Linked DNA regions of Homo sapiens. The protein of the gene in region 2 purifies or fractionates together with the protein of the main gene of each other region. This does not show direct contact. Each region holds a gene or a part of one and is shown on either strand. Other genes may lie near its edges.

The links. Proteins that work in one complex are often made in the same cells at the same time.
Region 1: the proteins of RD3 (region 2) and NBEA purify together in Homo sapiens (affinity purification with mass spectrometry; 3 studies listed by BioGRID and IntAct, with this or other methods). This does not show direct contact.
Region 3: the proteins of RD3 (region 2) and LRBA purify together in Homo sapiens (affinity purification with mass spectrometry; 3 studies listed by BioGRID and IntAct, with this or other methods). This does not show direct contact.

The regions. Positions count from the first base shown.
Region 1 is NC_000013.11:35,665,396-35,674,321, reverse strand, and holds the end of NBEA (neurobeachin), read right to left. Parts: intron 6,949-8,926; coding exon 6,752-6,948; intron 5,955-6,751; coding exon 5,803-5,954; intron 3,422-5,802; coding exon 3,331-3,421; 3' UTR 1,586-3,330; downstream 1-1,585. UniProt on the Homo sapiens protein: Binds to type II regulatory subunits of protein kinase A and anchors/targets them to the membrane. May anchor the kinase to cytoskeletal and/or organelle-associated proteins.
Region 2 is NC_000001.11:211,487,786-211,497,474, forward strand, and holds the start of RD3 (protein RD3), read right to left. Parts: upstream 4,378-9,689; 5' UTR 3,983-4,377; intron 1-3,982.
Region 3 is NC_000004.12:150,850,200-150,859,158, forward strand, and holds part of LRBA (lipopolysaccharide-responsive and beige-like anchor protein), read right to left. Parts: intron 2,745-8,959; coding exon 1,686-2,744; intron 704-1,685; coding exon 525-703; intron 1-524. UniProt on the Homo sapiens protein: Involved in coupling signal transduction and vesicle trafficking to enable polarized secretion and/or membrane deposition of immune effector molecules. Involved in phagophore growth during mitophagy by regulating ATG9A trafficking to mitochondria.

The DNA of each region.
Region 1 (8,926 bases), on a different chromosome or scaffold from region 2:
GTGATGCGTGCCTGTAATCCCAGCTACTTGGGAGGCTGAGCTGGAAGAGTTGCTTGAACCCAGGAGGCGGCGGTTGCAGTGAGCCGAGATTATTCCGCCACTGCTCTCCAGCCTGGGCAACAGAGTGATACTCTGTCTCAATTAAAAAAAAAAAAAAAGGTATCCCCACACATAGCAGAAACTGTTTCTAAAAGTTGTTTTCATCATGAAATAGTGAAGATGTGGTGTTTTGGGGGCTACCTTTACCTGCCAAAAAAGACTGTGCATGACCAAATTGGTTTAGGTCAATCTGCGACAAGGCAGTAGGCGAGTGGTGCAGGCAGAGAGGGGCCGCCTGGCAGGAGGAGCCTTAGGGACTCAGGTGCAAGAGAGTTCTCAGGAACTTGGAAAAAGGCTGGTTTACTAGGGGTGCTGGCTGCTGGGGGTGGTTCCTGAAGGACTTCGCTTCACTGAGCTTAGAATTTATCCCTCCAATCAGTGTTGTTGAAAATGTGCCCAAGAAGTGCTTGGGGTGGGAGGGGGGAGCGGTGGGACTCTAGATCCTGCTTTTAAAAATAAGCTCCCCAGGTGATTTTCAACCCACCAGAGTTTAAGAATACCATTTTAAGCCATTGGTATTGGTTTTTCAAAGTGCTGGGGGGTTCTGGGGGGCGCTGGGGGGCACTAGGGGGGCGCGGGGCGGCAGGGAGGGAGATGACTGGATGGGTGCCTTCGCAGCAGGGCGGAGCATGGATGGGAGGGGACAGGTCAGAGGTCAGGAGGTTTTCGGACAGTCCAGATGACAGTGCTGGAAAGGGCAGGGGCAGTTTCAAAAGACACTTTAGGTAGTGATCAGTCAGTTGGCTGGAGTGCCTGGCAGGAGGGCTGGGTGAGGGAGCCAGCAGGGCAGATGACTGACAGATTTCTGGTTTGGGGATAGGATGGAAAGTAAGAGCGCAAACCTTCCTTAGGCTACTGTTGGGTCTGTCCCTTTAGTCTCGGGAATGCGGATGGAAGCACGGCCTGCAGTTCTGTCATTCTCTGGGCCTGTCTGGGCCGCTGCCCCAACCACCCATGCCAATCTGTGTGACCGAATCCCCCTCAGCCCACTCGTGGCTGCCCTTGCTACCACCCATGCCAATCTGTGTGACCGAATCCCCCTCAGCCCACTCGTGGCTGCCCTTGCTAGCAGCTGCTCAGCCTCTCCAGGTCCTCGGTCCCTGCCTGTGCCATGCCTGGTCACTGATGGGTTCTAGAAGGTGTGGTTTCAAATGAAAAAGGCATTATGTGATAACACTCAAAAAAGGAGTTATTATAACCTTCACTACTTAGTTCCTTTTAAATAAAATAAAGACAATCCCCAAAGTGGATTATGCAGAATAGACAATGAGGGCCGTTTCCCCATGGTCGCTGTTGCCCCAGATCCCTGCCAGATGGCTCGGCAGAGCAGCTCAGGTTTCAGCAAATTGCAGAACCTCATTAGGACTCGATTTCATGTTTTTAGATGCTGTAGGCTCTACATCAGATGATGATGACTTCGGAAACCTGTATGACAACACAATGAAAGCATGCTAGTGACATGTCCAATGAAATCTGAAACAGTCGGTGAATTCTTTGCATATTTTATTTTTCTTTTTTTGATTTCCAACTCACACACATCTGGCATATTTTACATCTTTGCAATAAAACATGGTTACAATAGCTTAAGGAATTTATATATCCAAAATATTTCACCATGATCTCAAGATGAAATGAACTTGTCTTCCAGATGTTAAGTATCCTCCCAATTCTAAGCTACAAACTCAAGATATTGCTTACAGCCTGGTGATGAATAACTTAATCATTACGCTGATTCCCCATAATTTCAGAATTTCATAAATACAAACAACAGTGAAGAAGGAATTCAGTGCTAAAACTTACTAGTACAAGGTGGATAACAAATAAGTAATCACATCAATAAATAATGATATGTTTCTGGTGCAAAGTGCCAATACAAAGAACCCATTATCTTGTTTTATCTTTTTAAATAAATGACTGCGAGTGAGTGTAAATTCTGAGAAAATTACATTCCTGTAACATGCCTCATAGCCCTACCGACACAATATGTACATCTATGACGATACAGTCACCAAATATACAAAGAAGAAACATGAAGAAAGTGTATATACCCCTGGGTGTATAACTTGATCAGTACAATGTATGGAAAATCATTTGATAGCCATCATTTTATATCATAAAAGATGAAATGCCTTAGGCTAAGAATGTGGCTTTCAGTGAGAATTTCACGAGAACCTAAAAGAATAACTTCAGTTATTGTTGTAATAAAGTTTGACTTGTTATTAAAGAAACTAAGCTATTCAAGAACCAAAGAGAAAAAAAAAGTTAGCATCAGATTATCCTCCCCTAATGTATACACACCAAGCCAGTGGGATAACTCTGGAAGAGATGTCCAGGTGCTGGGAAGTTATTACTACAGAACTAACGCCCATGACTCCTATTTATACAAGAAAAACCAGGACCTCATCCCTAAGCCCCCTTTCTGCTGTGTCTTCAAATTATGCAGGGTAGGGCTGAATTTTCTTTGTATAAAGTACCCAAAATGGCAAATAATGGCTTAGTATCCAAATGCTTTATGAGCAAATTTCACTCAGAAGGGATGACTTTAGATTAAAAAGTGCAAACTATATTTTGGTGAAAATGTCAAAAATTACTGATGGAGCCCAAATTCAACCCTTTCATACAAGCTGTGTCCTTGGACAGATCTTTCTGTTTCATAGTGTGAATGCACCTGTTCCATCAAGCCAACAGGAGTAAGGAACATGCAAGTTGTAACTCCACAATAAAATTAAGAAACATTTTGTTCTTTATACAAGGTTTTACTTTTACAAAAGTATCCCTTTTAAATAAGATGCATCTGATGTACAAAGTATCAAACGTGTTTTTTTTTTTTTTTCTCAGCTTGAAAAGAGGCTGGAAATGGGATGCAGGTTAGGTTCAAAGCTTAAACTTTGTAACAACTGGACACAAGGTTCCTCAGAATTGTCAAAAGTCTCTTGTGACACATCCTACAACCTTTTCTCAATAAACAACAATATATGAAATAATTACCAAAACATCTCCTAATTCATATAATTTACATGATATAAGCTTGCTTGATAGCAGCTGGTGTTCAGTCGTGAAAAAACACACAAAGTAAAATGGTTGCTGACTACAATGTACAGCTATTGCTGGGTGTGATGGAATGTACAAACGGAGGTCGATGTAGACGAGTTTTTTCCACCAGAGATATTGCCTTTCCATGCAGCACTTGTGCTCTCAGCTTTAACTTGGCTTTTGGTTCTTCCTTTATCTTCAGTATCTGTTCTGATGCTCATAATGCCACCGATTAAAATCTATATTAAAAGCTACAATGCTACCAGAAGCCATGCCAGTGATCAGAGTCCTGGAAAAGCAGAAACAGCAGTTAAGAGTGATATAAAATCATTTCTGTGGTTGCTATTTTACACTAGACAGTATCTCAAAGTTTGGCATTTTACACTAGACAATATCACGATCTCAAGGTTTGCCAAGTCTTAATTTTGTATTCATGGAAGTAGGACTGAAATTTCTTCTTGGTTCTGCTGAGAGGAGCACAGTTAGCCCGCACACACCTGGACAGCCAGCCCTGCTGCAGAGCGTGAGGGGCCCACGGAACCACATTTCCAGCCTCCGCTGGGTGCCCCATTTCTCTCAGCAATCACACACGTGCCTGTCCGCTGCCTTGTTTTGGGCATCTATTGGCTTCTCTGAGGATATCTGGCATCTCTTCCTATCTCTGTGACCTTTCTTTTCTTTGCCCCCTTGAATCACTCCACCTCTTGTCCTCTCGGTCCACAGTCTCCCTGGACGTAAAGGCAACGACGTCTCATTCTGAAGCCCCAGATGCTGATTTCCCATTGCCAAGTGGAGGTCACTGCCAGGCTGTGTCACAAAACCCTCAGATTCAACATGTCCACCATGAATCACTGGTACCTTCTGACCTTGCTGGTCTTTTGCTGGTTAAGTCACCTTGTCTCCTCTCCCTCTCCCTCCTAACTGATCAGCTGTTCAGCTCTGAGGCTTCTTTTTCAGGGATATTCCTCCCCAGTCCCACTGCCACTGACTGAACTCAGGTTTCAGGATTTCTGTCTACATAAAGTGTTGCTTCACTTTTGATTAGACACCTCATCCAATAAATACCTTTTGAGTAATATCCCCAATATATGTTTATCAGTTTATAATTGATATGCATGCACTATTCATTATAAAACAACAAAATAATCAAAACCAAGGATGAGGTTAAAATAGAAATAGAAACTTAGTATCTTTCCCCCCTCCATTGAGACCCCCTAATACTACTGCAACTTTGAATATGCTCTTCCATCCACCCTGTCTGTTCATGCCTGGTGAATGGATGAGCCTCTTCTAAGGTCTTTCCTGCCCTTCCCAGCCCTCAAGAAGAGTTCATCCCTTCCTTCTTCTGTTAGTCTGTTCCTGGTGCCCTCATATGCAATGATTATGAGGATCTGAGCTCTCTGGGGTCAGTTTCTTGTTGTGGATCCTTAGTACTTTGCACTGCACTCAACCTATGATGATGGCAGCAAAATGAATACACGAACGAGTAAGAATATCAGGGAAATATTGAAACTGCTTACAAACACAAATCATTTCAAACACTCTGGAAACACACATATATACAAATAGTAACACAACAAACCATTCCCATTTATTCCTAAGTATGGGCTGCAGCACTTTGGGATACTCCAATAATAACCTTAAACCTTCTTTAAAAACAGTCTGGGCTGCAGACCAAACATCCTTTCCCAGACTAAATTAGCTTACAGCGTTTTTCCTGATGACTTCAGTGCCATTTTATTATATTGTGAAGATGCTTTGTTAACTTTATTATGTCTTAATATTTAAAATATTTTAAAACCAATACTGTTATGAGGAATATTACATGTAGTTGGGAAAAACGTTGATTAACAAGCTTTTCTTATTTCTGTTAAATAGCAAAAATTAGAAATCACATGCCATATTCAGATTACAGGGTTGTAGTTTATTTTAAAGGCTTAGGAACTTTAGACTTTATATTTCTAATATTATTTTCACTTTGTAAGAAACCCAAAGGTAAATTTCAGGAAATAATAAAATCCTATTGCAAATTGAGGAACAATGGAAAATCATTATTAATTGATTAACATCCATATCAACTCTTTCCAAGAAAGAGCTGGATTAAAGGATTAACGTGTTTTAAGGAAATACATACAATAAAACAAAATAACATAAATGAGAAACAGGTAAATAAGAACATGGGGGTAAAAAAATTGTTCTGGGTAATGCGTGAGTGCCGCATGCTGTTGAAAGGGGGGCCAGCTACGGCCCACACTATGCACTTTGCTGGAAACTGGTTAGCAAGAAGTAGGTCTCACACTGAATCCCACCTCTGCTGAAAAATACGTGTTTCCCTCACATCATATAAGCCAGGGTGGCCTGTCTGAGACTAGGCAGGAACCTGAGAACAGGGAACTTGGTGGGAGTAAGTTCTATGTCTTGGGCCCTTAAAACATGTCTGCAGGCACCTGTTCTTCATCAGATCCTTTTCTTTTTTTCCTTCTTATTCTCTTCCTCTGTTTCCCTCTCACTAGAATCCTTACTCTTCCCCTCATTTTCCCCTTTTCTTTGCCAGTCTTTCTTTCATTTGGATGCTGGAATTGCACTCACAGCACAATTCACCCTTGGTAGAATGAAGAGAGCCTTCAATGACAGTTCTCAGTGATGATACTTGTCCTTGACGCAGCTCACCTCTGGTCATGGGACAAGTCCATTGCTCTAATGCCAGCATCACATCCAGGGTAAATGTACAGTTGCTTGAAGTCACAGGCCTGCCAGACCTCTACTACCCCATTGTCCCCTCCGGTGACCAGGTTCTGGCCGTCACTGCTCAGGAGAATGGCCTTCAGAAAAGGTAAAACAAACAAACAAAAAAAAACAAAATAAAATAAAATACACAACAACCATTTCTCTCAATTTTTCCTAAATAGCCAACTGTCACTACTGAAAAGTACTCAGTACAGTTCCCTTATCATTATTGCCTACTGTCAGTCATTTGTCCAACAAAATCAAGTTCAATCCACAGAATTTCCATTGTGGAATTCATCGAAGTTCTTACATATACAAAAGATCTTATTAAAACCAAGATTAAATTCCCAAGAGAATATTATCAATTTAATCCAGGAAGAATTTGAGCATTAAGTAACATGTTTAGTTAAATCTTGAATATTAATATTATAGAGAATTAAAGAACAAATGGAAGAAACATATTTCAAAACAGTGTTTAATAATGACAACCCAGCAATTATAATTTATTCATGAATGAAGGGCAAATGGGTATATGTAATTTTTGTTTAGGGTTCTAGAGATAGAAATCTTTGAAAATAAACTCACTTTTAATGTTGTGAGGGTGCAGCACTGAAACAATTATAAAAGGAGCTTTAAAAACCCTCCCGAGGTTCTAAGCTTTAATCAAACAACAGCTATCATTTCTGAAGTCTAATGCAGTGAGTTAATTACTTGCAATTAAATGAACTTTGGGTTTCTTTAAAGTACCAGTCCGCAAGAAGTTATATACTTTTAATCTAGAACACATTTATCTGGATAGCACAGACATTCTATTATGAATTATTTAATGTAAAACAATCAATCTTTAATCTCTTGGCTTCAGTCCTACTTAGCACGAACTATGCAGATTTACCCGTGTTGAATCATTGATCTCCATTTGAGCCAAAAGTTTCCCATTAATGCTGAAATTACTGAATCGCCCTCGTTCATAGTATATGATACAGTGGCCTTCGCTGGAGACAGATATCAAGCGTGGGAATAAGCAGTTTTCTGGTCCTTCAAGGGCTCTCAGCAAATCTCCAGTGATGGTGTGGACAAGGCAAGGGCCCTCTGCAAAGTGGGGACATCAATGCCAGGGTCAGTTGGGGACGACAAACGACATACTAGCTCCCACCAACCTGAAAACCTTGCTGGGTGTGCGCTCAGATGTGACGGAAGAGGACAGGAAAGAGGTAGGCTGGCCAGGCCAAGCGCTGATGCTACATTTAAACAGAGCAAAGCCAGAGTACCTGCTACATATCACACTCCTACGCCGCACGCTTCTTCACCAGGTAGATACTTGGTCTTTTCCTTTGTCAGGTAATATTCATAGTAAAATGGTACAGCTCACAGATTACGTGACAATAAAAGACTTTATGTGCCAGACATTTTCTCTTAATACGCTTTTAGAAACTTTTCTTGAAAGTTTAATAGAATTATCAGAACAGCTGCTCATTTTCTCAAGTAGCATCAAAATTTTACGCGTTGTACCACATCAATACACTGCCGTCAAGTACATTTTACCTTTTTCTGTCATCCATACGCATAAAATGTAAAAGCAAAATTGAGAAAACTTAAGTATTTCAGCCTACAGAAAGATATTTTGTCTTTCAAATAAATGAATAGTGAGGCAAGAGTGTGAAAGGAGGGTAAGGAGTGACATTTGGCTCTGATGGTTTCTGGGTTTTTTTGCCCTTATAAAATAGTGTTGATAAAGTAAAAAATTCACTGATCAATTCATAAAAATTGGTCACTATAGTTTGGTGTTATATATCTATTCCCTTGTCCCAAAAAGATTTCCACAAAACAATGTATGAATTACGTGTTTATTTTTAATTGAGCTGAATAGACACATATTTTACAAAGCAAGTGACATGATTAAATTTTGTCCTGATTACTAAAGTAATAGACTTGCCCTATAGAAAATTAGGAAAACACCAGCAATCATCTCTAATATCACACAGCCCCTGCAGGAAATGTCTCTTTCTTGGCGCCTACTATGTGTCACTTATTTTCCTTTTTTTTTTTTTTTTTAACTTCACAGGGTAAAATGATATTACACATATTATTACTTTTTAAAATTAAAAGACTGAAAATATCCTATGTGTCCATTTCTGGGTTATTTATTCTTAGATACCAAAATTTTAAAAACATGGTGCCAGCCTTCAGACTCTATCCATTCTCCGTAGAAAGGCTGAAATGAGCTCTAACAACCAAACCTATCTATCTCATCACCTCGATTAAAAAACTTCAATAGTTTCCTACTATACTCATTTAAAAAAAAATTGCAAATGCTTGTGCCCCAGGCCCCTCCCATCCCTTCAGCCTTCTCATTCCTCCAGGTTGTGGCACCACGGTGATACTCCAGCAGCACCCAGGGCTCCTTTCAGTTTCTCCAAGCATCAGGCTCCTTTCTGCCTGGGAGTCTTCCCACAGAGAACTGCTATTTGAGCCAGAACTAGGACCTAAGTTTCCTGACTTCCTGAAATGAAAGATCTTCTACAAAAACTCCAAAGAGGCTGGGTGTGGTGGCTCACGCCTGTAATCCCAGCAATTTGGGAGGCTGAGGTGGGTGGATCACCTGAGGTCAGGAGTTAAAGACCAGCCTGGCCAACATGGTGAAACCCCATCTCTACTGAAAATACAAAAAATTAGCCAGGCTTGGTTGCGGGCGCCTGTAATCCCAGCTACTAGGGAGGGTGAGGCAGGAGAATCACCTGAACCCAGGAGGCGGAAGTTGCAGGGAGCCTGGATTGCACCATTGCACCCCAGCCTGCGTGACAAGAGTGAAGGTATGCCTCAAAAACAAAACAAAACCTCCAAAGAACCAAGTAATCTTTGTTTCCTTTCCACCAACCTCTACACAGCCCCTGGCCTTATAAAGAAAGGGACTTGAAGAGGGAGGGGATCCTAGGCCGTGTCTGATGAGTGACATGACCCCCCACCTCCCCCACTACATCAGGGATACTTTCCCCTTGTCTTTTACATGTCCTTTACAATGGCTGCATCATAAGAATACACTGTAATTTATCAGTGTTCTGCTTAGAAC
Region 2 (9,689 bases):
TGAGGCGCAGGGCTGAGTTCTCATCCACTCACTCGCTCAGCAGACACAGGAGGAGTGTGTGACCTGCCTGTCGCTGTGCTAGGTGCTGGGACTCCCTCAAGGAGTGTACACTCAAGAGAGGGGGGAAAACAAGCAGACAAGCAATTGCGATGCCACCAAAGGCACAGCTCTCCTGAGTGGAAAGGGACTCCTGGGCCTCGGCTGTGTAAGCAGTGCAGGGTGTGCCCAGGAAGTGCCTGCCCCTGTTCTCTGCATAACCGCTACTGCTCATTAACCAGCGAGGCCTTGGTTTCTGCATTTATAAAATGGTGTTCAGACACCAGCTCAGCCCACTCCACAGGGCTTCTCTGAGACTCGGGCAGGAGACAATATGTGAAAACATTCAGTAAACTATACAAATCCTGTGCAGTGATCAGGGGTTGTAATTCTTATGAGACACAATCAGGTGGCTAAAAAGTTCACCTGGAGGCCGGGAGCGGTGGCTCACGACTATAATCCCAGCACTTTGGGAGGCCAAGGCAGGCAGATCACTTGAGGCCAGGAATTTGAGACCAGCCTGGCCAATATGGTGAAACCCCATCTCTACTAAAAATACAAAAATTAGCCAGGTGTGGTTGCAGATGCCTGTAATCCCAGCTACTCAGGAGGCTGAGGCATGAGAATTGCTTGAACCCGGGAGGTGGAGGCTGCAGTGAGCCAAGATGGTGCCACTGCACTCCAGCCTAGGCGACAGAACAAGACTCTGTCAAAAAAAAAAAAAAAAACCCACCTGGAAAGAGGTCTTGAAGGCTCTATAGAGAGGAGACAGATGACCAAATGCAATGATGACACAAAACAAGAAGAAAAGAAATGAAAGCCAGCTAGGAACATGGGCTGGGCCCTGCTTGTTAAGACCCCTATCCATCTTGGGGTCCTTAGTAAGAATCTTTGGGCTGCGTTTCCCTCTTTTGTCTGGGAGCCGGGGTGGGGACAGAGTTGCTGCTGTCCATTGACACATACATGCCTTCCGTTCCCTCTCCCCATATTCCCTCCGTGGAGTCTGGGGCCTGGGGTCCAGTACCATCCCCACTCTCACCCCCACTCACCACCTCCACTGCTTTTGACCTCAGATGCATGCTGGGTGGCCTGGCTGCACCCCCACTCCGCCTCTACTTGATCACCAGCTCAGGTGGAGCAGGCTGGGCTTGGGGAGACAGTGCAGCCTTCAGCAGATAAAACCTGAATTCAGTTCCTACGCCCTTCCCCTCCCGTGTATGCTGCCTTTGTCCAAGTCACCTTCATGGCCCCAAGCCTCAGTTTCCCCAATCTATAAGGGAATAATAAAGGTACCTATTTCAAGTTACTGTGAAAATCAAATGAGATTATGTCTTTGTAAATGTTTTATTTTTATAAACTAACAATAAGCTGATTCACCTAGATCAGTGGCTACCATTGTCGCTTAGTACAGATTCTTACCCTTGGGTCCTAGGGAAAATTCAGGGATTTATGAACTTGGGTGGGGAAAAAAGTCATCTTTATTTCCACTAACCTTTAACTGAAATGTGGTATTTCTTTAGTTATGAATGAGGGTCATAGACCACAGTAATATCAGTAGCCCCATGGCTTTATCTCCAGCAGAAACCACAGATTTTTCACAAAATGCTTTAAAGTTGTTATTCTTGAATTATCTGGTATGCTCATCACTACTATGAAATTGTGGCATTTATTAGACTTGCTACTAGGTTTTATTATTTCACATGTTGATAGGGAAGCACACATATTATTATATCATAAATCATTTTTTCTTTCTTTTTTTTTTTTTTGATAGCTGCATTTCAATAGAGCTTGTTTCCTTTGTACCCCAGTGAATTTACTTTTATGCATTTAGAAGCATTTTTCTAGGAACGTGTCCACAGGCTTCACAGACTCCCAAAGGGGGCACAAAAATAAAGGATCCCCTGGCTTGGTGCAAGCTTGACCCCAACTTTGTTCCTGGCCTTCCCCAGCCCTGGCTTCTGGTCACCGTGTTGGGAGAGCTGAGCCTCCCTGTTTCAAGAGAAGGCCCAGGTGGTGAGGCCTCAGGTTTACAGAGCAGAGTGGATGATGGGGAAGCCCTCGCACGTTCTGTCTCTGCCTTTTGGTGTCACTCACCCACGCCCGTTATCTTCCATTCTCTGATCTTCTCTTTCCTCTTTCCTTTCTCCTTCATTACCCCTTCCACCCCCACACTCTCAGAGCCTTCCTTTCAGCCTATTTTTGAACATCCCTGAGGATAATGTCTTTTCTGTGGCTCCTGGGAGGCGCCACTACCAGCTGTGGCTCGTTAGCTGTGCTGGAAAAACTCTCGCGTTGTGCCTCAAGGGCAAGAGGAGTCTCTGGTTCCACTTGGCACTCAGAGGGGGACCAGGGATGTCTCAATGGTGGGAACAATGGGGAGTGTGACCTTGGAGCTGGAAGCAGGGCTCTGACCCCCTGCAGGAGGGATGAGAGTGCCCTCACCTCTAGTGAGAACTGAGGCCCTGCGCCGGCCCCAGCCAAACAGTGAGGGCGTGCAGACCTTGCCCAGGAAGGCCAATTTCTCAGTGCAAAGGGAGCCATGGCCAGGGAACCCGGCCCGGGTCCTCCACCTCTGAAGCTGAGCTAGGCATCTGCAGGCCAGGGTGAGGGGCTGCCCTGTGTGACCCGCCGGACCCAGGCATAGAGCAGCACCTGAGTCAGGCTGTCCCAGAGCACTGGCAGCTTCACTGCAGGGGCAGGCTGGCTCTGCTGACGCCAGACGCTCAGTCTGGGCAGAGACTTCTCAGTGGGGGCAGAGAGTAGGTGCTTCTCTGGCTAATCTGCCTCCCAGCTCTGTGTTTGATAAGGCCCAAGTCCAACTTTACAGATTGCAAATTGACCTTATTTCTCTTTGGCATCACAGAAAAACAACCTATAATCCACCAAGCCAGATATGAGCGGGCCTGACCTGTGGATCCTCTGCCCACCTGACAGACATCTGCTCATTTGTCGGGAACCCCTCAAGAGACAACTCCTCCCTGCAGCCGGCCCCTCACTTCCCCCCACCCATGGAGCACTGATCCCAGCCACCAGGGCCTGACACAAGGGCCCATCACCATGGCATCTAGCAAACACGTTTCTCACGCTTTGGGTTGTATTTATCTCTTCCCCACCTAGCTATGAATTCTGCAAGGGCGAGAGGAATGTGGGTTGAATCTGCTGCACATGGTAGCACTTGATAAGCGGTTCCTGAATGAATGAGTGAATGGCAGCCAGTCCTTCCCATTCTGAGGCAGAGGTGCAGCCAGGAGAGGGCGTGTACACAGGTCTGACTGACCACAGTGGGAGGGGACTGACCCTCATCCCTTGGTCGCAGCTGGACTTTCCTTCTAGGCCCGATCTCCCTGGCGCCCCACCCTGCACCCATCTGCCTGGGCCCACTCTCCTGGGCATGTTATCAGGGATGCACAGACTGCTCCATGTTCGAGGGGACTGAGGCACATCCATCACCCTCGTGCCCTGGGTGCTGCTGCATCCCCAGAGCCTGACTCTGTGCCTTGGACTTAGTAGATGCTCGAATCACAGTTCGCAAACCCATGCAAGAGTCTCTGATTTGGGTTTCGCTTTCCTTCCCCCTGCCTGTGTCCACTCTATAAAGGCAGAAAGGAACCTGCTGGAGCTGGGTCCTCCCCGAGAGGCTTGCAGTTCCAGAACAGGCAAAAACAATGGCTTCCCACAGGTTTACAAAACAAGGAGCAGGCTATAGCCCCGAGGAAGCTGCAGGACCCTCATCGGTTCCAACTCCTGTGGAACTGATGAGGACTAAAGGGGCCTTCCTGTGGCCATCTGGGTCCCGGAGGTGGGCGGCTTTCTAGGCTCCCCAGCCTGCCACACCCCTTGAGGCCACCCCACCCAGCTTCAAGCCTCAGCCCTAACTTCCAAAGGTGCAGCTGTGCCAGGGTGCGGGTGGGGAAGACACTGTCTCCTGGGGAGACCTCCATCTTACCTCTGAGGTCAGCCTCTGCTCAGGTGCAGCGTCACAGCAGGGGGCCTGCGTTCTGCTTCCCAGTCTGGGAGAAGAGAGTGTCTGGATATTTTCAGGAAAAAAAAAGAAAGTTGAGCAGCCACAGCAGGGCAGGGCAGTCTACATCCTCAAGTCTCCCTCAGCTTCTCTGCTGCTGCCGGCTGGCCTCAAATTTTGCCTCTCTTTGGTTCTCTGAGAAGTTTTACCAAGAGAAGAGACAGGAGGAGAGATCCAGCCTGGACTATTGTTTGTGGGGTGTGTAGGTGTGTGTGTGTGTGTGTGTGTGTGTGTGTGTGTGTGTGTGTGTATGCGTGTATGTATCCCGCGAGGCTGGAGCCACAGCTTCCCTGATGAACCATGGAGGCGGGCCAGCTCCTGAGCTGCGGTTGCCCTGGAGACCCACCTAAGCCTCTTTGCCTGGAGCAGCATTATCTGTAGAGGGAGTGGCTGATCTGACACAAAAGCCTGAGGCGACCCAGGCCCAGGCAGTGAGGGAGCACTTGTGTCCAGATGGCATTCTGTCCGCTTCCTCCTCCAGCCGGTGCTCAGTGTGGCACAAACTGGGCAAGACCATTCTCACCCAACCCTCTGCTGAGCCCTAGGTGTACCTGCTGTTGGCAAATGTTTCCAGCTGCCTGGTGGGTGGCTCCTGGATGGAGATCCCCTCTTTCTATCAGCTCCCTCCTACAGGGAAGGGGTGATTCTGGGTGCTGAGGACAGGGACCTGTGAAGATACATCTCCGCCTTTGCCCCACCACATCCCTTGCCTGTCTTCCTCTCTGCTTATCTAAATTATTTCCTTCCCTCAAGGCAAGCTCAAGAGCAGACAGTTCTGACTTTCAGAAGGAGGGGCTGTCCAGGGAGAAGAGGAACATGGAACAGAAAGCATTGACGTTGAGGTATTTGAGATAACATTTGGGGATAGCAGAAGCATCCTGTTGCTGTTCTGCAGCATCCCACACTCATGTCTGGGCCTCCTTCCTGTCTCTGCTCTCTGGTCACGCTGTCACTTGTAGACTGTTCTGCCTAGAAGCCATGTGTGGGCCAGCTTGCACCTAACAGACATTAGGTAGCACTAAAACAGATGCACACTGCCCTGTGAGGGGCATGGGAATACTGTAATGGGCATGAAGCTGCATTATAATAGATCTTAGGTAATCCTGTGCTGGGTGATAGCGTGACTTTTGCACACATCTGGTTTTGATTGTGTTGGAAATAAAGCAGAAAGTACAACCAAGAATAAATTAAACAATGGCTGATGAAATGGACTCAGGTTGCCCACCTGCCTGCCTGCATGATTTCGTCCCTGGGTGATTTGTCACTTCGTGCTTGCTCTGTGGCTGGTTCCACTCAGCTGGTTCCATCCGCCTTCCCTCTTCATCCATCAAGCAGGCAAGATTCTTGAGTCAGGAGTTGGATCATATACTTCTCTTGACCAGTTCACAGCACGACAGCCCCAAAGATTGAGTGGGTCACTTGGGGATGGAAGATCCCCACATTTGAGGGAGCTGAAGCTGACTTCCTCTGACCCACAGTTCCCAGGCGGCCTCCACCTCAGGGCCAGCTAAGGCCAGAGTCACCCAAAGCAGGTAACTGGGAGTCCCCACCTCTGAGCACCCCACCACTATCCTGGCACTTTCCCAAGGGGCGTGGCTTGGAGGTCCAAGGGCAGAAATTCCCAGGCATTTCCACACTGTAGGGAAGGGAGCAGGGGGATGACAAGACTTTACCTTCCCTTTAGGAAAGTTGCTGGAGGCAATGAGGAGAGGAGGGCATGGACTAAGTCACATGCTCATCTGTGCAGCACGTATTTCTAAAGCACCATTCTACAGGGGCACCAAGCTAGGAGCTGGCTGAGCCTGGCTCTCCTCTCTGCACACATCCCAGCCAAGCCTGTGTGTGCTGGATTGCTGGATCAGATGAGGAGGAGGTGGAAGTCTGGCAGGCAGGTGGGGAGCAGGGACAGCATTAGGGCCCAGAGTTAAAGACTTTTATCTCCAAGTAGTACAACCTTGGGTCTGCTACTGACCATTCTGTGTTTGAATAAAAACAATTCATCCCTTTTCTATAGCCATGCTTTTGTATTAATATCTCCCCTTCTAATGCACACACAATGAATGTAAATGAGATCATAGAGGCCAATGTCTTGAGCCATCAGAAAGATTTTGTCGCAGCAGCTGCCAGATGAGCTTCAGGACTCCTGACCCTGGGATGCCAGGGAACAAGCACACAGACGACTTATAGCAGTCTCCCTGGCAGACGCAGCTGGCCCCTCTCCTGCATTTTTCAAATGGTGCCTGTGATTAGAAGAGGGAGGCACTCCCTAACCCACGACCCTCCCTGACAGCTGCCTTGATACCGTAACTCACAGGCCTTGGTGGGTGTGTTGACTCCTCATTTATTCTGATTTGTTCACCTGTGGAGGATTTGTGATTATCCTTGCTGAGTGTGAATTTGCTCTGGGGAGAAAAGGTGGCGGTTGTTTTTCTCTTGTTTGGCGTGGATGGAAGTTGCTGAAGCATAGATATTCAGCAACCATCAAATGCAGAAACACCGGTGGGGCCCGCAACATTGCCTCATAGATGGCATTTGATTAATAAATTGGAAATGTGGAGTTATGAGGCGATTACATGCAAGGCTGGATTAAAATCCGCATGGAGATTAGAGATAAGCCCCGGCTCTGCGTGTGTGTGTGTGTGTGTGTGTGTGTGTGTGCACGCGCGCGCTCCGTTCTCTCCTCCCTGGAGTCTTTCCAGGCTATTTCAAACCATTTCTAACCACTCAGTCATGCGTTGGGTTTTCCAAATCCTGCAGAAGGTCTGTGTAGCCCTAATCCCAAAGAAGTTGAATTAAATGGACAGAATATTCATAGGTACAGACCAGATTTGCAGTTACTTAGACCTCTTCTCTCTGGGCATCCCTCTTTCTATTCCTGTGGTCACATTTCCTCTCCAGGTGCTACGGACTGAATGTTGTGTCCTCCCCAAAATTCAATCTTGAATCTCCCAAGGTGATGGTTAGGAGGTGGGACCTTTCGGATGTGATTAGGTCGTAAGAGGGGAGCCCTCAGGAATGAGATTACTGCCCTTGTGAAATGGTCTCAGGGAGCTTTTTGGCCCTTCTACCACGTGAGGACACTGTGAGAAGATGCCTCCATCAACTAGGAAGTGGGCTTTCAGCAGACACTGAATCTACTGGCACCTTGATCTTGGACTTCCCAGCCTCCAGAGCTGTGAGAAATAAATTTCTGTCATTTATAAGTCACCAGTTTATGGTATTCTGTAATAGAAGCCTGAATGGACTCAGACATCAGGTACAGGAAGCAATGTGTCTGACGGCAGGAAAAATGAGAATGCTCCCTTCCCTGCCAGCTAGCTGGGAATGAGGCATAAAGCACTTCTCATTCATTCATTCATTCACCAAGCATTTATTGGCTATATACTCTGTCTAGACTGCACCTTGACACTCCATTTCCATAGACTTCACTGACCACAGCTTCTTCTTCTTCTTTTTTTTTTTTTTGAGACAGAGTTTTGCTCTTGTTGCCCAGGCTGGAGTGCAATGGTGCGATCTTGGCTCACCACAATCTCCACTTCCCAGGTTCAAGCAATTCTCCTGCCTCAGCCTCCCGAGTAGCTGGGAGTATAGGCATGTACCACTACGCCTGGCTAATTTTGTATTTTTAGTAGAGATGGGGTTTCTCCATGTTGAGGCTGGTCTCGAACTCCTGACCTCAGGTGATCCACCCGCCTCAGCTTCCCAAAGTGCTGGGATTACAGGGGTGAGCCGCTGCGCCCGGCTACAGCTTTTCAGTTCTGCCCTGTAGTCTGATGGACTAATGTGAGGGCCTGTGGCAGAAACAGCTAGCTGTCCACCAAGAGTCACATTTCTCCTCCAGAGTACATGAACATGTAGTAGACATGTTCCTAGGAAGCAGCTGTCCAGCTGGGGACTTCATTCCCCATCCCTCCTCCCATCTAGGTGGGGCCGTGTGATGATAGGGTGTAGATGGAAGGGACATGAGTCACTTCAAGGTGTGGCAGGTAGACACCCCTGTGCAACTGTCCACCTTCCACCTTTCCCCTTTGCTGATCGTCAGCCAGGACTCTGAGGCCCTCGGGGTGGGGGAGACACAGTTTTGAAGGCGTTTAGGTCCCTCAATCACTTCATGAAAAGCTGCTCACCCATCATTCATGTTGAACTCTAATGTGTGCAAAAAATCATATGCTTGTTGGGTCAAAGCACTGAGTTGGGGTTTCTCTGTAATAGCAGTTGGCACCACCCAGCTCACAAAAAACCCTGTGAAAAGGGGTGGGTGTGGAAGTGCTGCCCTTTCCTAGGTTCCTGGACATCAGGGCTCTTCCTGACATGTTCGCCGCTGGTTTTTTCACCATCACCTTAAAGACATTACTTCATCCCCTGTTGTCTCATGCCCCTGTGCATGGTGCCCACTCTACCCAGAGTCCCCTCCTACCTGGGGAAGTTAACTTACCCCTCAAAGTTTAGCTTCATGGTAACCGCTTTGTGAATTATCCTCTGTCTGCTGCTCCCTCCTCTCCACTCTGAAGCCTCATTCTTTTTTTTTTTTTTTTTTTCTTTTGAGATGGAGTTTTGCTCTTGTTGCCCAGGCTGGAGTGCAATGACACGATCTTGGCTCACTGCAACCTCTGCCTCCTGGGTTCAAGCAATTCTCCTGCCTCAGCCTCCCAAGTAGCTGGGATTACAGGCGTGTGCCACCACACCCAGCTAATTTTTGTATTTTTAGTAGAGCCAAGGTTTCACCATGTTGGCCAAACTGGTCTCGAACTCCTGACCTCAGGTGATCCACCCACCTTGGCGTCCCAAAGTGCTGGGATTACAGGTGTGAGCCACTGTGCCCGGCCTGAAGCCTCATTCTTCCTTCTGTACACACAGTTGATCCTCATTACCTACCAAAGTACTGGCAAATTTGCCTACTCACTAAAATTTATTTGTAATCCAAAAGTCAATACTCATAGAACTTTTTTTTTTTTTGATGCAGAGTCTTGTTCTGTTGCCCAGGCTGGATGGAGTGCAGTGCTGTGCTCTCAGCTCACTGCAACCTCTGCCTCCCAGGTTCAAGCGATTCTCCCACCTCAGCCTCCCAAGTAGCTGGAATTACAGGCTTGTGCCACCACACCCGGCTACTTTTTTTTTTTTTTTTTTTTTTGAGATGAAGTCTCGCTCTGTCGCCCAGGCTGGAGTGCAGTGGCGAGATCTCGGCTCACTGCAAGCTCCACTTCCCAGGTTCATGCCATTCTCCTGCCTCAGCCTCCCAAGTAGCTGGGACTACAGGCACCCGCCACTACACCCAGCTAATTTTTTTGTATTTTTTTAGTAGAGATGGGGTTTCACCATATTAGCCAGGATGGTATCAATCTCCTGACCTTGTGATCCGCCTGCCTTGGCCTTCCAAAGTGCTGGGATTACAGGCGTGAGCCACCACACCCAGACTAATTTTTGTGTTTTTTAGTAGAGACAGGATTTCACCGTGTTAGCCAGGATGGTATCAATCTCCTGACCTGGTGATCCGCCCGCCTAGGCCTTCCAAAGTGCTGGAATTACAGGCGTGTGCCACCATGCCCGGCCTAATTTTTGTGTTTTTTAGTGGAGACAGGGTTTCACTGTGTTGGCCACGCTGGTCTCGAACTCCTGAGCTCAAGTGATCCCC
Region 3 (8,959 bases), on a different chromosome or scaffold from region 2:
TCTCCTACCTCAGCCTCCTGAGTAGCTGGGACTACAGACGCCCGCCACCACTCCCAGCTAATTTTTTTGTATTTTTAGTAGAGACAGGGTTTCACCGTGTTAGCCAGGATGGTCTCGACCTCCTGACCTTATGATCCGCCTGCATCGGCCTCCCAAAGTGCTGGGATTACAGGCTTGAGCAACTGCGCCCGGCCTATACCAATTATTTTTTAATACTTCTAGTAATAAACCAACTTGATAAACCTACCTTCTGGTGAATTCCGTGCCATAAAATTGCTACAGGAAATCTACTACAAATTTTTTTAAAAGAGAAACCTCTGCTTTTCACATTTTTGTAATCCAGATAAGGATTCCATTCTTATAATGGAGAATAAAAGTGAATTCAGTAAAACCCTACCATAGAATAATTTCTATTCTACTTTTTAACCAAATGTCTGAAATTAATTACAAACTGTTTCTATGGATTTCTTTGAAAATAAAGACTAGGTTTATACACATCTTCCATAATAAACATATAGACAAACCTTCTCCACATCTGTATATCTGTTTCTATTGAAAATAATAGATCAGTGAGCAAACGTTGATGCATCTGAGACCAGTTGAACTCAGGAATACGAAACACAGTAGATCTGGAATCCCTCCTTTGTCCATTAACTGCATCTGGTGCTATTCCTTGCCCTGGCTGCTCATGTTGCCTTGATATCTAATACAGAAATTTAAAAAGTAATAAAATAGGTTCAACTTCAGCAGGAGGCTTTAGCAAAGTAAATAATTTAGTAGCTTCTATGCAATTCATCTAACACGTTTTTAAGACACTATAAGAACCAAATTAGAGAAAGAAAAATTATCAATGAGTAATAACATTAACATTTTAGTACATGTAAGCAAAGCTATCAAAAGTGCAAAACTACCACAATTTAAAAGTAATTAACTTGGAACCATGTTAAGTATTACCACTATGTAGCATTTTATAAAAGAATCAAGTAACAGTTCTTAGTTTTTAGCCTTAGCCTAAAAGAAAGGCAGTATTTAGAATCTAAGTGGCATTTGGATTATGAAGTGGCTAGAATGAAGAATAAAAACAGAGATAACATAATGAAGAACCAACCAACAAAAACAAAAAAAAGGAGGGTGGGACAGAGGATAAGAATTGAATAAAGTGGAAAATGACAACATGCTACCAAGCACTGTCTCATGGGTCACTCTGAGATATGGACAGAGGAGAAGGCTGTGCCTCTAGATCTCACAAAGCCTCCTCTCTCTTATAGACTTCATAATACAATTTTAAATCACATGCTTAGTAACTAAAATTATACACTGGCAGGTAGGTAGCCCTAGAGTTTGTTGGAAAACTAATGTACTAGGATTGGGTTAGTCAAATAAAAGGTAAAATGCAAGTGTTTCCAATATTTGTTTTATAAACTAAAATTATACCAATCCTTCAAAGTGGTAACTTCTGGTGATACTATGGTAAAAATAGTAATAAAAACTGTCATTTAATGAACTCACATTAACTGCCAAACACTGTGCTAATGATCTGAAATACAATCTTCACATTCATTGCATTTATTTAGTTGTGAATAGCATGTGAACCAAATTCAAAATAAAATAAAATTTAAGTATATACACTTGCTCTTTTTTAACTCAGTGCAAAAGTACTTGAATAAGACAATATATAAAATCACCTCAAGCACATGTCGATGAGGTTGAGGTGCTTCCACGTTGGGACTGGCCTTCAACTCCAGCCTCTCAGTATCTGTAGCAACATTGGAAACATCCAACTTCGCAATCTTTTGCTCAGAAGAAGCCTCAGAGACACTACCATGACAATCATTAATTAATTTGGTTTCTCTAGTGAGGTTAGTTGCTTTCTTCCCTTCCTCCAGCATCTGACCAAGGTCTGATTCTACAGCTATTTGGGAAACAGTAGTTTCTGGTGACATAGCTGAAGACCCTGATGCTGTCATAGTCTGAATTCCAGAATCTTTAGAATCTTGAGTTTCAGTATCAGTTTGCTTTTCAGTAACAGGTTTTCCTTCTTGAAATATTAATTTGTCATCATTACCAAACATGTCCAGTTTTTCACCGGCTTCAGATGCAGCTGGAGACAAACTGTTATCTTGGAGCTCTGTGGGTAGATTAGCTTCCTCAGTAGGACTGCCTTCTACTTTCAGTTCCACATAATCATCATCTTCCTCTTCCTCTACTATAGATTTATCCAAGAATTCTGGCATCTCTGAGGCATCCTCTTCTGAAGGAGAACTTATAGAAGCAGTTACTTCACTGACAGTCATTGAATCTTTGCCAGTTGTTATAAAAGAATTAGAGGAAATAGCCACAGCTTCTATTATGTCAGAAGATACTTCTAAATCATCTGCATTCCTTGTCTCATTTGTCAGTGTTTCTTCCAAAGTGCCTTCATCTGGTAACTCCTGATTTTCTTGCTCAGCTTTCATTTCTTCATAAGATGTATTAGTAGTTTGCAGTTCAATATTAGATGCAGATTCTAGTGAACTTGTCTTCTCTATACTTGAATTTTCATTACCATTTGTGGTGAAATGAGGACAGACAGGAGAATCCTTCGTATCTGGTTGCTGGGATCCTACTGAAACATTAATATCCCTTCTAATGCCAGAGGCTGCTTGAACTGAAGTTGAAGAACACAGCCCTATTTCTTCATCAACTTTTCCTTGCTGTTCCCTAAATATATTGGCAAGGTTTTCTTTGTGTATTTCAAAAGTGACCTAGGTGAAAAATGTACAATCAGTTAAAATATGCATGAGAAATGAAGACAGAATACAAAATATAAAACTAAATAATTTTCAAATACATAGTTTATATAATACAATAAAACTTAATTTTCCTATATTTTATTTTAGTAGAATGATAAATGTAAGTCAATCACAGAAATCTAAATATTCATTAAAAACTACAGCCAATTTTAATGTTAACAAGTAACACAGCATGAAACCACAAGAAGAACATAATTATTTAGCCTATTATTAAACATGTATAGGAAAAGGATACACTATTCTACTGGCCACCATAACTTGTACCAGAATTTAAGTATGTACCATTGGGAAGTGCTTTATGCACTGGATAACACTTGTTTCAACCGCTATGAATACCAATTTCCCCAGGACTTGTCCGCAGGAGAGATTAAAAATATCAATTAATTATGCTCACCATTACAGTAGCTCTACAGATATCTATTAAGCTACAAAACCATTATCTCACTAAGCCAATGAATACAAATTCTTTTAGCAATGGGAGAAAAAAGATCCAGCCCTTCCCCCAAAGGTTAACCATAATTTCCAAAGTTTGAACTGGTCGAAAATAGTCTGAATGTTTCAGTTGATCCATCCATACATCCATTCATTCCATTTATATCTGAGTGACTACAATATATTAGGCACCGTGAACATTCCTATATCATGCTTTGCCTTTTACCCAAATGGGAAAAAACTGAAAAAGTAAATTTTTTTTTAAAGAGAGTGCTGTACTTGTTAATGTCACAAGATTTAGAATTTTTAAAATCTAAGGATTATCTTATAGCCACCATCATATGATTTCCATTGGTGTTTCAATGGTAACCCCCATCACCCCTTGCAACAAAAATGCCAGAAAAACCTATAACACATGCAGAAAGTATTAGCCTAATTATAGTTTATTAATCCCAAAAGTGTTTGTTTCTGTAATCTACATTATTATATAGAGTAAACTGAACATTCATTCAATAAATCTTTATTGAGCCATAGTATAAGAGGATGATAGGACAATCAAGGAAGAAAAGCTGATTTTTTTATCCACAAAAATCAATAGGCCTTATTGAATCACAAGAGTATACACACAGATGAAAAGCAAACAAAAGTAAAAATGACTCTCAATGCAAAAATTTCCTTCTATCGACATTAACTCGCCTTTACTCATGACATATACAGAACATTCATGCCATGTGATATACCTAAAAATAAAAATGTTCAGGGAATGAATATTTTCCTGTGAATATTTGTATTTTTCCTAATTGTAACTATTTCCACATTGTAACTATGTTCTTAATTCTAAAACTTAGAAATCTTTTTATAATATTTCAACAATAAATGCATGTATTCCTCACTAAACAGTAAAATGACATAATCACATTAACAAAATATCAATTTCTTTTACATTCACAATGCCAATATTTTATTTGACATGGGTTCTGTATTTTAATTGACCAATTCCTCATATTCATTCAACAAAAATTTACTGAACATCGGTAGCAGGCCAGGCATTGTGTGATGAACACATTGTTCCTGACTTCATGGAGCTTATATTCTAAAGAAGGTGTCAGAAAATAAACACACGAATATGTAAGATAATGTCAAATAGTAATAAGAGCTTTGAAGGGAGGGGGAAGTACAGAGTGAAGAACTGTTCTGAAAGTCTAGGCGAGAAGGTGTATTTACTAGTGTAACTGCAGTAGGCCTCTCTGTTCTATTTGAACAAAGGCAAGAATAAAAGAGAGAGCAAGCCATGTAAAAAGAAAAGAGTTTCAGGCAGAGAAGAACAAATGCAAAGGCCTTGGAGCTGAAATAAGCTTGGTATGTATGATGAATAACAATAAAGCAATAAACTGAGAACTAAAGAAAATGAGGTCAAAGATGTGGCCACGAGCTAGATTATGATTGTAGAACATTATAGACTGTATTAAAGACTGTATTTTATTCTGAGAGAGCCATTTGAGAATTAAGAGTGTAGGGAAGACAATCTGATTTCCCTTTTTAAAAGATCAGTGGCTGGGCACGGTGGCTCACGCCTGTAATCCCAGCACTTTAGGAGTCCAAGGTGGGCAGATCACCTGAGGTCAGGAGTTTGAGATCAGCCTGGCCAACATGGTGAAACATTGTCTCTACTAAAAACACAAACATTAGCTGGGCATGGTGGCACACACCTGTAATCCCAGCTACTCAGGAAGCTGAGGCAGGAAAATTGCTTGAACCCAACCCAGGAGGCAGAGGTTGCAGTGAGCCAAAATAGCACCACTGCACTCCACCCTGGGTGACAGAGTGAGACTCTGTCTCCAAAAAAATAAGACTGGTTAGCCTACTTTTTGGAAAACTGACTTTAGAGAGAGCATTTCTCCACCAACAAACAATTATCATTGTCAAAAGAAAGCAAGTTACATATTACCAACCTCACAGTCATTTTGAAAATAGGCCATTTATTTCTACAATAGCCTGTGTTATAGAATGACTTTAGTTTTCAATAATCATTTGCTTTGATTTTATTTATATTAAAGGTTTTTAGAATTTGTATTATACAATGGATCAATAAACATGAGTATATGTAATTTATATGTACAGGTTAAGAAACAATTTTTTTTAATCTCACATGCCTACCACCCATGTCAAGAAGTAAAACGTTACCAGTACCTCACAATTCCCCTATGTGCCCTGCCCAAACTGTACTCCCTATTTCTCCACTACAATCAGAAAAAAATCACTATCCTGGTATTTCTATCGTTCACTGTTTATAAATAGTTTTACCTGGAGGTCAGAGCTTTGGGAGATAATTTTAAAAGATAGTTTTACTATCTATATACTAAACATACCCATTATGTTTAGTTTAAAAAACTAAGTCTAACACAAACCTAGCCAATTGTATTTTAAAGAGCAATACTGCCACACCTGAGCTCCCAAGAAAAGACAAGATACACAGAATCTGTGAGTTGCAGCAGGGCTTCAGCTTATTTGAGAGAATATGTAAAGCCATTTCTGGGAAGTCTTATAGGCAAGTCATTAGGAAATACAGGAAATATAGAGGTCAAGAGAACTGGAGAACCTATCAGAGGCAGTGTGTGCCAGGTAGAGTGTATTGGCATGAAATACTTTATATTTTTCAATTCTAAGCTCACCATGGTGAACCTCTACCCTAAGAAGTAGGTCGAAGCACAGCATGTCTTTGTGGAGTGAAGTGAGAATCTTCAGGTGATTCACATTAGACAGGAAAACAGGAATTTAATCAGCACATGATGAAGGCAAGCAAGCTAAGTACTCCTAATAAGAATACAGGTCCACCTCTCCTGAGTGAAACTGCTCCAGTCCAGATGGACTGTCATCTGCCTACTACATAGCTGCTATTGGGATCTCCCTTTCTACAGTCCTGGAGATCCCCTTCATCTCTCTTCTATGTTGTCTCTTGTTTCTTATATTTCATTTCTTCCTCTTTGTATTATTCTCTCCTTTTGTGCAATATCCTGCAGTGCCTTCTTAAGAAAGGATGTATATAAATGTTTTGAGATCTCAAATCCTGAAAAGGTATTTATTCTCGCTTCATACTTGATTAATAGTCAGAGTATAAAACCACAGATAGAAAAGCATTTACCTTCAGAATCTGAAATGCTTTTAAAATTCTAAAGTCATTTGGTTTTTAAATTTGCCCTTAATTTAATTCATCCAATGGTCTAAAAGCTAAATTGCAATTGAACAACTATCAGTATTATCTTTTTGGATGCTGTTTTCCTTAAGATATTTGTGACTTTAAAACTGATAATTTCCAATTAATTGCCAGATATTGTTCTAAATTACCCAGCTAAAAGACTAGTCATTAATCTTCACAATCATTTGATAGCTAATCTATAGCTGTTTGTAATGTTTGGAAAGCACTTCTATAAACTACTAGTTAAAGATACTTGTGAGCTAATGACTATAACATTTCTTTTGCCATTATTTTCAACTTAATTGGCACTCAAATTTACTAATTAGTAGATAAAAGATAAACACAATACATCCAGATGTTAATATTATCTTTTTAATCTATACATTAAAACCGTATAACCTGTAAAATTTAGACATTTTAAACTGTTAGGCAATGTTTAGCAACTGACTTTGTTTTTAAGCAAAGGCATCTTTTTCAGTGTCTGTTTTCATATGAAAATACCAGCTAAATATGATGTTAACTTCTGATTAAGTTACCAACCTTTGATAAATAAGATATATCTTTAAAAACAGGTGGATCTTCCCATATGTATTATCAATGAGCATAAGTCAAAATGATTGCCACCACATTAATGAGATCTTTTATAAAGACTCTGATGTATAACAATGGTATAGGTAACAGATATAATGGTAAAATCAAGCATTACTGACATAATTAAGAGCAATTCTAAAGGTTGGTAGTACAATCCCCATTTATAAAGATAGGAAGAACACTGACAAAAGAATATTGCAGCAAATAACTTCTAATCTTTTCATTTTTAAAACAGTCATTTTGATCAATTTTAATTTCTTAAAAACAGTCTAAACAGATGCTTTCATGCAAATCTAGCGTATAAACTGGTACAAATTTTTAGAGGGCAATTTAGCAATATCTACTAAAAACTTTTTAAAACATGTACAGACTCCTTCCTCTGGAAATTCCACTTACAGGAATTTATCCTACAAAATAAGGGTTACAGTATTGAACCAGGCTCATCATTGGTCAATGATAAGGAACAGATAAAGTATGATTATAATATAAATCAATAGATTTTTTAAATCTCTCTTCCATCAATTTTTCTAAATACAATTTTGGAGAATGCCAGAATATAAAAAGAAAACTTGAATCATTTACACGGTCACTCCTTCCTAGAATTTTAAGTGGTCTGATAACATTCAAATGTTATATCAAAGCTGAATCTTATGCTCTTTACTTCTCCATAATGTCATATAATATGCAGGCATTAAAATTCATGTAAGAAGCATATCATTAAATAATACTCTAAAATAGTAAAAATACGATCACATTTTGTTAGCAAATAATTATATGTTATGTATAGATTCATGTATAGAAGAGAAGACTAAAAGGTCTCGCACTAAAATGTTAATAAGTTATACATAGGTGTTTGGATAATGGATAATTTTTGTTTTCTGTGTGTATGCATTTCTGCTGGGTTCAAGATTTCCTGTAATGAAAACTTATTATTATTTTAAATTTTTTAAAGTAATAAATGCTATTTGGTTTCAAAATGTTAAAGCTAAGAATACTTTTAGCCAGGAACAAAGGTACATGCCTGCAGTCCCAGCTACTGGAGAGGCTGAAGGGAGAGGATCACTTGAGCCAAGGAGTATGAAGCTGTAGTGTGTTATATATAATGGCACCTGTAAAGAACCACCGCACTCTAGCCTGGGAAGCACAGCAACAGTCTGTCTCTCTCTCTTTTTCTTTTTTTTTTTTAAGTGCCATTTAAATTTGATAAAAACACACACACAAACACTCACACAGAAATCAGGTATTTTTAAAGAATTATTTAGCAATTAAATAAGGTGCAAAGTGCTGATAATCCATGAAATGCGGACATTTTGTAACTTTTTTATTTTTGTAATTTTTGTGAGATATCTCCTTTCATCACCCAGACTGAAGTGCAGTGGCACAATCTCAGCTCACTGCAGCTTCAGCATCCCGTATTCAAGTGATTTTCATGCCTTAGTCCCCAGTAGCTGGGACCACAGGCATGCACCACCACTCCTGGCTAATTTTTGTATTTTTAGTAGAGACAGGGTTTCACCACGTTGACCAGGCTGGTCTCAAACTCTGGCCTCAAGTGATCCACCTGCCTCAGCCTCCCAAAGTGCTGGGAGGCATGAGCCACCATGTCCAGCCAATTTTGTAACTTTTGAAATTTCTTCAAACAAGTCGCTTTTAATCTTATCATACAGCCACCATAAACACATATACATTTTTGTATATGCCAGTTCATATCTTATGATTTAAAAAATAATTTTAATAAACCAATTAGAGAATTCTTTAAAAAAAAATCTTATTTCCACATGCTTTTACCCAATCTAAATGGTAGTTTTTTCTTATGTACAGTGACTGAAATGTATACTTCAGATATTTCATTTCTTATGTACAGTGACTGAAATTTATACTTCAGATATTTCATCAGTAAACAGCAAGTAAAATCTTCAGATATTTCAAAAAATCCAAGATAATTAAG